3 linked regions of the Homo sapiens genome follow. The protein of the gene in region 3 purifies or fractionates together with the protein of the main gene of each other region. This does not show direct contact. Each region holds a gene or a part of one and is shown on either strand. Other genes may lie near its edges. The genes, in order: WHAMM, OCIAD2 and ZFYVE1.

What was found.
Region 1: the proteins of ZFYVE1 (region 3) and WHAMM purify together in Homo sapiens (affinity purification with mass spectrometry, with the first as the bait; one study listed by BioGRID). This does not show direct contact.
Region 2: the proteins of ZFYVE1 (region 3) and OCIAD2 purify together in Homo sapiens (affinity purification with mass spectrometry, with the first as the bait; one study listed by BioGRID). This does not show direct contact.

What each region holds. Positions count from the first base shown.
Region 1 is NC_000015.10:82,833,575-82,836,706, reverse strand, and holds the end of WHAMM (WASP homolog-associated protein with actin, membranes and microtubules), read right to left. Parts: 3' UTR 599-3,132; downstream 1-598. UniProt on the Homo sapiens protein: Acts as a nucleation-promoting factor (NPF) that stimulates Arp2/3-mediated actin polymerization both at the Golgi apparatus and along tubular membranes. Its activity in membrane tubulation requires F-actin and interaction with microtubules.
Region 2 is NC_000004.12:48,904,543-48,908,293, reverse strand, and holds the start of OCIAD2 (OCIA domain-containing protein 2), read left to right. Parts: upstream 1-1,519; 5' UTR 1,520-1,636; intron 1,637-3,659; exon of another isoform or gene 3,660-3,682; 5' UTR 3,683-3,744; coding exon 3,745-3,751. UniProt on the Homo sapiens protein: Has an essential role in the assembly of mitochondrial respiratory chain complex III. Is also required for STAT3 activation and plays a role in cell migration.
Region 3 is NC_000014.9:72,971,974-72,975,202, reverse strand, and holds part of ZFYVE1 (zinc finger FYVE domain-containing protein 1), read left to right. Parts: intron 1-243; coding exon 244-424; intron 425-1,009; coding exon 1,010-1,123; intron 1,124-3,229. UniProt on the Homo sapiens protein: Plays a role in the formation of lipid droplets (LDs) which are storage organelles at the center of lipid and energy homeostasis. Regulates the morphology, size and distribution of LDs.

The sequences.
Region 1 (3,132 bases), on a different chromosome or scaffold from region 3:
CTGGCCTAGCTCAATGCTTTTCACTCCAGGACAATCCATAGGATTGGCTGTACTAGGAGCAGATGCCAGTCCTCCTTTGTACCAGACTCCCAAGACAAAGTACATGGCTGTATAGGAGAGAGAGGTCAGAGAAGACCTGGCGGAAAAGGCTGTGGGGTTGAGACCTAAGGATGGGCATGGGTTTGCCAGGACATGAAGGGTGCAGGGAGAATTCCAGGCACTTAAGAGAGCAGGCCCTTTGGGGGCAGGCAGGAAGCAGCATGGTATTGCTGGACTAAAACCTGTGGCAGGGGCAGGGGCTGCCCAGGGGAGGCAACCAAGTCTCTGAGGGTTTTGTCTGCCAGGCTGAGGGGCTGCCCTTCCTGTGTGGGCTGGAAAGCCAGGGAGAGGTGAAGACTGGCAGTGCTTTGGAGGCCGACTGGAGAGCTCTGAAGCTGGGCAATAGGAGACACTTGTCCCCACTTCCTTGGCTCTGAATTCCCTGAAGCCAAAGTCTGGATTGACTTCAAGGCTTGGCTGGAAAAAGCAGGAAAAGGGAGAAAGGAAGGAGAGAAGGTTCCAGAGGAGGAAAGGAAGCGTTGATGCACAGAAGACACAATTGGGCCAGGAATTTTTATTGTGAGAACGTTCTTTTGAAAAGGATCCTTTTTTCAAAGGCCTCTTGTGTTTGGCAGCCCTTAGAAAGCAAATTCTGAGAATTATTTTAGCCTGATTAAGCTCGCTGGTATCTCAAAATACTGAAATTATAAATACGTAATTACAAACAATGCCAAACTGCAAAATATGCATAAGAAAAGTCCCACAAAGTTGTGATTTTGCTACTTTTTCAATTCCAAATTCTTTCCCTAGGAAGTTTGATGCTGAGCCTGGCCTGTCTGTGGTGGGGAAGGAGGCCTGGGCCACAGCCACTGGACCTGTCTCTGGGATCTGGACCTGATGCCCAGCGAGTAGCCCGCAGGTTGCGTCCCCCACTGGAACACCCCTGGGAACCTGGGTGGGAGCGGCAGGTACAGGGGCCAGTGCAGAGTCAGGGCTTGGCCCATCAGGCCTGGGCCAGCACAGTGAGGCACATTCATTCATACACAGGAGTTGGATTTGCATTCTGAAAAGGTAGCACACATGACAGACCCGTGGGCAACCTGGCAGTGGCTGGGAAACCTGGCAGTGGCCATGCCACAGAGGGAGACCCAGGCTGCAGCTGCTGAAAGGGACTCACGCCCCTCCCAGCTGTGCCAACTGAGGCCCCTCAGGCTGCTGTGTACCAGTTAGTTAAGACACTGGAAGGCCAGGTGTGGTGGCTCACGCCTGTAACCCCCAGCATTTGGGAGGCCAAGGTGGGAGGATCACGAGGTCAAGAGATCGAGACCATCCTGCCAACATGGTGAAACCCCATCTCTACTAAAAATATAAAAATTAGCTGGGTGTGGTGGCACACGCCTGTAGTCCCAGCTACTCGAGAGGCTGAGGCAGGAGAATCACTTGAACCCAGGAGGCAGAGGTTGCAGTGAGCTGAGATCGTGCCACCGCACTCCAGCCTGGTTGACAGAGCAAGACTCTGTCTCAAAAAAAAAAACAAAAAAACTGAAGTAGGAAGATTTCTGTTCTATATCAATCAGGACTTTCTTTGTAAACGAGGTGCGTTCCTTTTGTTCTGTGGAGACCCAGGAGTAATATCACCAGAGTGAGGGTGATGAGGTTAGTAGGGATGCTCGCAGTCTGAGAAATGAACGGACTGCTTTGCATCAGTCCCTTCCCCTTCCCTGATTTTAAAAATTTAATTTTAAGGAGAAAATACTTCAGCATGAGACTTCAGTTCCTGAGGAAAATAACACTATTGCTCCATCCTTAGTATTCACTTAAACAAATGTTTAGCTAAAATTTTATTAAAAACTTTCAGCCCACCCGGACACGGAAGACTTTGCTTTTACAGCAGCTAAGGTATGTTTTCATTACCCCGTGAGTGATGCTAATGCATTGCAAATAGTTATTATGAGTTTATGTAGTGCTTGGTGCCTAAAATAAATTTCATTTAAATATTTAAAATAACTCCTGAATATAAGCAATTTATTCTGATTACTGATAAAATAACATTCACATTCAAGCCTACAAATCTGAGAAATCATTATTCCATATGCACAGAAGGCCACAGTCAGTAGTCTAATAGTACTGCTTACCAGTGTAGTGTAAACTTCTTTCAGAATCAGGGAACAATTCTAGATCAGCCATGGTGAGAAATAAGTGCTCTTCTCTTAGGCCAGCGACACTTCCGATGGGTCTTGACATCCCACCTATGGGCTGGTGTGTGAAACTCTCATCTCTACGTCCCTCCCCAGTTTTAAGAGTCACCATGTCACATAAAAGCTCCAGCATCAGCCAGGCACGGTGGCTCATGCCTATAATCCCAACACTTTGGGTGGCCAAGGCAGGTGGATCACGAGGTCAGGAGTTCAAGACCAGCCTGGCCAACATAGCGAAACCTTGTCTCTACTTAAATATACAAAAATTAGCCAGGCGTGGTGGTGCATGCCTGTAATCCCAGCTACTCGGGAGGCTGAGACAGAGAATTGCTTGAACCTGGGAGGTGGAGGTTGCAGTAAGCCAAGATCGTGCCACTGCACTCTAGCCTGGATGACAGAGAGATTCTGTCTCAAAAGAAAGAAAAAAAAAAGGCTGGGCGTGGTGGCTCACACCTGTAATCCCAGCACTTTGGGAGTCTGAGGCAGGCGGATCACGAGGTCAGAAGATCGAGACCATCCTGGCTAACACGGTGAAACCTCGTCTCTACTAAAAAATACAAAAAATTAGTTGGGCAAGGTGGTGGCGCCTGTAGTCCCAGCTACTCGGGAGGCTGAGGCAGGAGAATGGCGTGAACCCAGGAGGCGGAGCTTGCAGTGAGCCAAGATCGCACCACTGCACCCCAGCCTGGGAAGCGGAGCTTGCGGTGAGCCGAGATGGCGCCACTGCACCCCAGCCTGGGCGACAGAGTGAGACTCCATCTCAAAAAAGAAAAAAAAAAAAAATGCTGCAGCAGCCTACACAAGGCCCTGCTGATCTTCCGGGGTGTTATGTGGCCCATCTATCAGCACCCTGTTAGTATGCTTTTCGATAGGTCTAAGACTCACCCACTTTATT
Region 2 (3,751 bases), on a different chromosome or scaffold from region 3:
CATGGCTGGGGTAACTGTGTCCAGAGGTGTTTGAACAAGAGCCACTCCATCTTGAATAGGGACTGAGTAAAATAAGGCTGAAACCTACTGGGCTGCCTTCCCAGGTGGTTCAGCATTCTTAGTCACAGGATGAGATAGAAGGTTGGCACAAGGTACAGGTCACAAAGACTTTGCTGATGAAACAGGACTCAGTAAAGAAGCCAGCCAAGACCCACCAAAATCAAGATGGTCATGAAAGTGACCTCTGGTCGTCCTCATTACTCATTAAATGCTAATTTTAATGCATTAGCCTGATAAAAGACCCTCCCACCAGGGCCATGACAGTTTACAAGTGCCATGGCAACGTCAGAAAGTTACCCTATATGGTCTAAAAAGTGAAGGAACCCTCAGTTCCGGGAATTGCCCACCCTTTTCCTGGAAAATTCATGAATAATCCACCCCTTGTTTAGCATAGAATCAAGAAATAACTACCAGTATAATTAGCTAAGCAGCCCACACAGCTGCTCTGCCAGTGGAGTAGCCATTCTTTTTTGTTGTTGTTCTTCTTGTTTTTTGTTTTTTTTTTGTTTTTTTTTTTTTTGAGACAGAGTCTGGCTCTGTCGCCCAAGCTGGAGTGCAGTGGCGCAATCTCGGCTCACTGCAACCTCTGCCTCCGGAGTTCAAGCGATTCTCCTGCCTCAGCCTCCCGAGTAGCTGGGATTACAGGCATAGAGCACCATGCCTGGCTAACTTTTCGTATTTTTAGTAGAGAGAGTGTTTCACCATGTTGGCCAGGCTGGTCTGAACTCCTGAGCTCAAGTGATCTGCCTGCCTTTGCCTCCCAAAGTGTTGGGATTATGGGCGTGAGCCACCGCACCCGGCCTGTTTTCTATACTTCCTTAATAAACTTGCTCTCACTCTACGGACTCACCCCGAATTCTTTCTTGCGAGAAGTCCAAGAACCCTCGCTTGGGGTCTGGATCGGGACCCCTCTCCGGTAACAAGTGATATCGGTATTAAAGGTACCCCCACATGTCAAAGGCTTCCCTCCACAAGTCAGAGTTGGGGAGGGACAGGAGGCAGCAGGGGACCGACAAAGAGCAATGGAAAGAGAAGGCCTGGGAGCCAAGCAGGCCTGGGGTTGACTCCAGGCTCCCTTAGTGGCCTGCACAACTCAGATGACCCGTCTGTGAAGTGCAGGTCACAGTGGGCACCACACACGGCTGCAGAAAGGAGTGCAAAGGTGATGCCCACGCCTGGCCTAGGGCGGGGGCGCAATACATGGCTGTTGCGGCTGTGATTGCTGGAGGAAGGGAGTCATTTGGAAGGCACAAAGGAACTAGAACCTACTCGGTGTCGGGACAAGCCTCAAGGATGGGGCAGGGGTTCCGGCAAGAGCTGGGTTCCAGCCTGGGTTGCCACCAACAGCGAAAGTGACTGCCAGGTGGCAGTAGGGTGACTTCACCAGCTTAAGTGCTTAGCGGGCAGGCGAGGGGGCGGAGCAAGAGAAGAAAACACAAAGGGCCGGAAGGAAGCCGGGGAGACAGGTGGGGTACTCGGGAAGCTGGAGCGGGCCGGCGGTGCAGTCACGGGGGAGCGAGGCCTGCTGGGCTTGGCAACGAGGGACTCGGCCTCGGAGGCGACCCAGACCACACAGGTGAGCCCCCGCCCCGGGGAGTGTTGACGGCGGGAGGGGGTGGCCTCGGGGGAACGCGGCGCCGCAGGGCAGTCCTTCGAAGGCCGCGCGGTGCAGCGGTGGCCGCCCCCCACTCTCCCCTAACTCGGACCCCGGCGGCCCCGGCACGGGCGAGGGGCTGGGGAGCTTGGGGTGGCGCTGGCTGCTTCTGGCCAGGGATGGCAGCGGACTCCAGTAGGCTGACTCCCGGCTTCCCCGACCGCATCAGAAAGTGCAGTGTCCCCCGTCCGCCGTCCAGCCCTGCAGGCGCCCCCCTCCAAGCCATCCTAAGAAGCACCCCCGCCCCCCATGCTGGGGCGCGCCCTCCTCCGCACATTCGTCGGTCAGCACCCACGAACCCACGGGTCCCTTCCCCACCACTGAGGAAACAGAGGGTCCCCGGACCACCCCAGCGTGGGGGGTGGGAGCTACACCTGCAAGGCAAGACCCTCGGAAGGCTTGCTTTTAGGTGCAGACTGAGGACTAAGTGGGTGCCAGGGGACCTGGCCACCGAAGCTGAGAGGTATATTTGCCTCCCAATATAGGGCAGCGGCCTAATGGCTAAGCAAAGATAATCTAATTTGGCGTGGTCAGCAAAGACTTCCTGGGAGTGCTCAGGAAATGGAAGGTGTGCAGGGGCTTTATGGACGTATCCCTCATCCTCATCCTCATCCTAGTCTTCATTCCTGCAAGAGCCCCTCACCATTGTTGTGTCCATTATGCCCAATTAACAGTGGAGAAAGCTGAGGCAGAGACGGATTAAGTCATTTGCACCAAAGGGATCGCAGGGGTAAAGAGTCACGATTTGAACTCTGGTCTCTCTGACCCCAGTACTTTCCCGTGCAGGGCACCGTGCTGCCCCTGTAATCACATTAGACACCTGTGATGAAACTTGGTGCGAGTACGGGTCCCCTTGGCTCAAATGCCTCAAAGTTTAGTAACTGATGTAGGAAACAGAATTGTATATAAGAGGTTCATTTTGCAGAAGAAAAGCAGAGGTAGAGGTAGAGTTCAGGGCTGCAGAATGCAGTGGCCACTGGGGGCAGGAGGAGGCTCAAAGTCCACCTGGATTATGTCCATCATTGCCAAATCCAGGGTCCACTTTTCTAAGCCATGTGATGGTGTTGATGATTCACTCCCTCCTTCAGAAATTCCCTCCCCTCTGTATCAGCTATTCCTTCTCAGTCATTTCCTTGGCCTGCTTTTTTTTTTTTAATCTTTCTTCTCTTTTCGATATTCCCTTGGGCTCAGTGTTCATATTCTCCAGTACTGTTTTTAGACACATTTATTAAAGTTCCCTGCTTTAACTCTCATCTCTATGATGGCAGCTCCCAACTTCATCTCTCTAGCCTACCCCTGTTCTGGAACTCTAGACCCAAATCGTCAAATATTAACAGTGGCTAATTCCACTGTTTGCCCCCACAGGCACCCAAATCCAACATTTCCAAACCCAAATTTAGCATCTCTATCAAAGATGCTAAATTCCCACCAGGGTCTTTGTTCACGTCCCTGTAACTCCTTGTCTGGACTAGTGTACCACCTTCCAACCTGGTCCTCCTGCCCCAGAGTCCATCTACCCTCCACAGATCCTCCTGAAAGCTTAGGAGTCCTAGTTCCTTTGTGACATGACTAGATGGAATGGACCCTGCTTTCTTTTCTTCCTTAGCATCCCATGCATACTTTTCATGTTGTGTAACTGTTGACTTGTCTATCTCCCCTTTTGGACTGTGAATTCCTTCACAGCGGTGATCTTGTCTTATCCTTCTTCATATCCCCTGGCCTGGCACATAATCGACACTCAGTGCACAGTGTGGTATTTCCACTCTATTCTAAATCTGATCTGTCCCCATTAGTGAGTGCATGTATGTGTGCTGGTGGAAGAGGAGCACTGGAAGTTGAGTTTGCAGATGGACTAATGACAAAAGGAAAAACACATTTTCCAAATAACTCCAGTGGATCCTCAGGATGCTTTTAAGCTTGATGCAAACATTTAGTCATGGCATAGTGATTCTCTTCTACCTTCCTTAGACACTGGGTCAAGGAGTAAGCAGAGGATAAACAACTGGAAGGAGAGCAAGCACAAAGTCATCATGGCTT
Region 3 (3,229 bases):
GCTACAGCACCCAGAGCAAGAGAGCACCCAGCTTCAACCCAGACACTTAGTGAAAGGAAACTCACTGTCCACCAGGCTTCCTTTCCATTCTCAGATAACGCGTTACTAGAAAGCTCTTGTCCTTGTTGAGCTAACGCCACCTGCCTTAGTTTCTGCTTGCTCCGGGGTCTTGTTGACTTTCTCAGCTGAGCAGACATGTACCATACCTACCTGCCTCTCTGTTTTGTTTTGGGCTTGGAACAGAGCTGCAACAAGTGTGCGACGTCCTTTAAAGATAACGACACTAAGCATCACTGCCGAGCCTGTGGGGAGGGCTTCTGTGACAGCTGTTCATCAAAGACTCGGCCAGTGCCTGAGCGGGGCTGGGGCCCTGCGCCAGTGCGGGTCTGTGACAACTGCTACGAAGCCAGGAACGTCCAGTTAGGTAACGTGGGACCTGGGAGCTGCAGGGGTGGAGGGGAGAACCTCCCACATTGGCCCTGGGTGCTAAGAACTGGATATCCAGATGCCCTAATCCACATCTCCCTTGTGAGAGTACTTCTGGTCTTGGCCAGTCAGCCTCTAAGCTCCTTGTTAACAGCGTCCTATGGGTGCTGTTCCTCAGGGGCTCGAACCTGTCCTGCATTCTTAGCTGCAGAGTTGCTTCTGGGGGAAGGGAATGCGCACATAGCAACTGAATTCTGAAAAGGCTGCAGTGTTTACCAGAGATGGCTTAGACCAGTCTTCTCCTTTGAGAAGGTTCTAGTTTTCGCTCCTAGAACCTTTCTGCCTTACTTTAAAAGAAGGGTTATAAAGGAGCCCCAGAAGGTTGCAGCTAAAGGACTAACAGATGTCATCTAATTTCAGAGTCTGGGCTGACCTGACCCACAGCACAGACCCTTGCAGTAGTTGCAGGACAGCACAGTGGTGTCTGGGATCAGAATCCAGAAGCGTTCTGCTATTGGTCCCTGAGTTTTCCATTTGGGAGAGGACTTAGAGGTGACAGCATTTCCTTTATTACTGTCTACAGCTGTTACCGAGGCACAAGTGGACGATGAAGGTGGAACGCTCATTGCTCGGAAGGTGGGCGAGGCCGTGCAGAACACTCTGGGAGCCGTGGTGACAGCCATTGACATACCACTAGGTGGGCCTGGCAGTGCTTCTCTTGGGGGTAGTGGATGCGGGTTGAGGGGTTTCAGGTGCCCTGGGCTGTCACTTTGTAAAGGCTTGCCAACCTAGATTGAGATGGGTGGTAAAGGAATCAATTACACAATGCCACACATTTGCTTGCTTCTGCTGAATGCCTTAGTAGTTTCATGTTTATTGCTGGAAGCCATTCTCTTACAGCATCTAGTGCTGTGTAACGAGCTACCTTAAAATGTAAAGGCTTAAAACAGCCATCTTTGATGTCTTTGCAGGTCTAGAAGTCAGGAAGGGTAATTATTCAGCTCCAAGTGGCATTGGCTCTAGTTACTACCTGATATTCCAGGGTGGTAGCTGGAGTGGTCTCAAGGGTCCAAGCTGACCTCACTTACAAGCTGGGTGCCTTGGCAGGGACAGTTAGGAGGCTGTGTGTAGCAGAGCCTCACTCGGTCTTTGTATTCTCCAGGCCTCTTCAGTGGTTTCTTTGGCACTTCTTAAATGATGTCAGGGTTCCAGGAGTTAATGTTCCAAGAGACAGGAAGTGGATGCTGCCCATCTCTTTTTTTTTGTTTGTTTGTTTGTTTGTTTTTTTGAGATGGAGTCTTACTCTGTCACCCAGGCTGGAGTACAGTGGTGCGATCTTGGCTCACTGCAACCTCCGCCTTCCAGGTTCAGGCAATTCTCCTACCTCAGCCTCCCAAGCAGCTAGGATTACAGGCACGTGCCACCATGCCCAGCTAATTTTTGTATTTTTAGTAGAGACGGGGTTTCACCATGTTGACCAGGCTGGTCCCGAACTCCTGAGCTCAGGTGATCCACCGGCCTTGGCCTCCCAAAGTGCTGGGATTACAGGCGTGAGCCACTGTGCCTGGCTGAAGCTGCCCATCTCTTGAGGCCTAGGACTGCAGACAGGCACTTCTGCTGTCATCTCCTGGAGTCTGCTGCCGTCACAGGTTTGTCTAGATTCAAGGGAGGGGGCAGGAGTGTCAAAGATGGAAAGTGGGTGAAAGATTCTATGGCTGTCTTTAGTCTGTCACACCAGCCAAACTGTTAGTAGTTTAAGATTTAAAATAGCTGGCCGGGCACCGTGGCTCACGCCTATAATACCAGCACTTTGGGAGGCCAAGGCAGGTGGATCACGAAGTCAAGAGATCAGTCTTGGCCAACACACGGTGAAAACCCGTCTCTACTGAAAATACAAAAAAATTAGCCAGGCGTGGTGGCGGGCACCTGTAGTCCCAGCTACTAGGGAGGCTGAGGCAGGAGAATGGCATGAACCCGGGAGGTGGAGCTTGCAGTGAGGCGAGATCGCACCACTGCACTCCAGCCTGGGCAACAGAGCGAGACTCTGTCTCAAAAAAAAAAAAAAAAGAAGATTTAAAATAGCTACCCAGCCCTGGATGTGAGGGGTATTTGTATTTAGGATGGCGAGGGGGAGAGGGAGGGAAATCAACCAGTGCTTGGCAGGCTTACGCAAGGCTGGCCAGGCCTGGGGCAGCGTGGCACATTGTAGGGGAGCGAGCAAAAGTGAGTAGTGATGAAAATGGCCTGGAGCAGATTTCCTCATTGCAGCTCACAAAGTGAGTAGATGATGTAGGAATTGCTGGATTTGCCCAAGCTTAAATCTCAGGTTGCATCTGTCCCCAGGGGTACCTGGGAGAGGCAAGAACTGTCCTTGGCACAGAAGGCAGAGCATAGCCTGCTGGCTGTGCTCACCAAGTGCTCCCATTCTGAGCGCCCACAGGGTGTTGAGTACCAGGCCAGTGTGTCAGGCATGTTCTTTCTTCTCATCCTCATCACAGTTCTTGAAGGTGGGTTGTTAAAGATGAGTAAGCCCCTGAGAGGTTAGCTAACCTTTCTTTTTTTTTTGAGACTGACTCTCGCTATTGTCCAGGCTGGAGTGCAGTGGTGTGATCTTGGCTTACTGCAACCTCCACCTCCCAGGTTTAAGCGATTCTCATGCCTCAGGCTTCCAAGTAGCTGGGGTTATACCACCACGCCCGGCTAATTTTTGTATTTTTAGTAGAGACAGGGTTTCACCATGTTGGCCAGGCTGGTCTCGAACTCCTGACCTTGAGTGGTCCTCCTGCCTCTGCCTCCCAAAGTG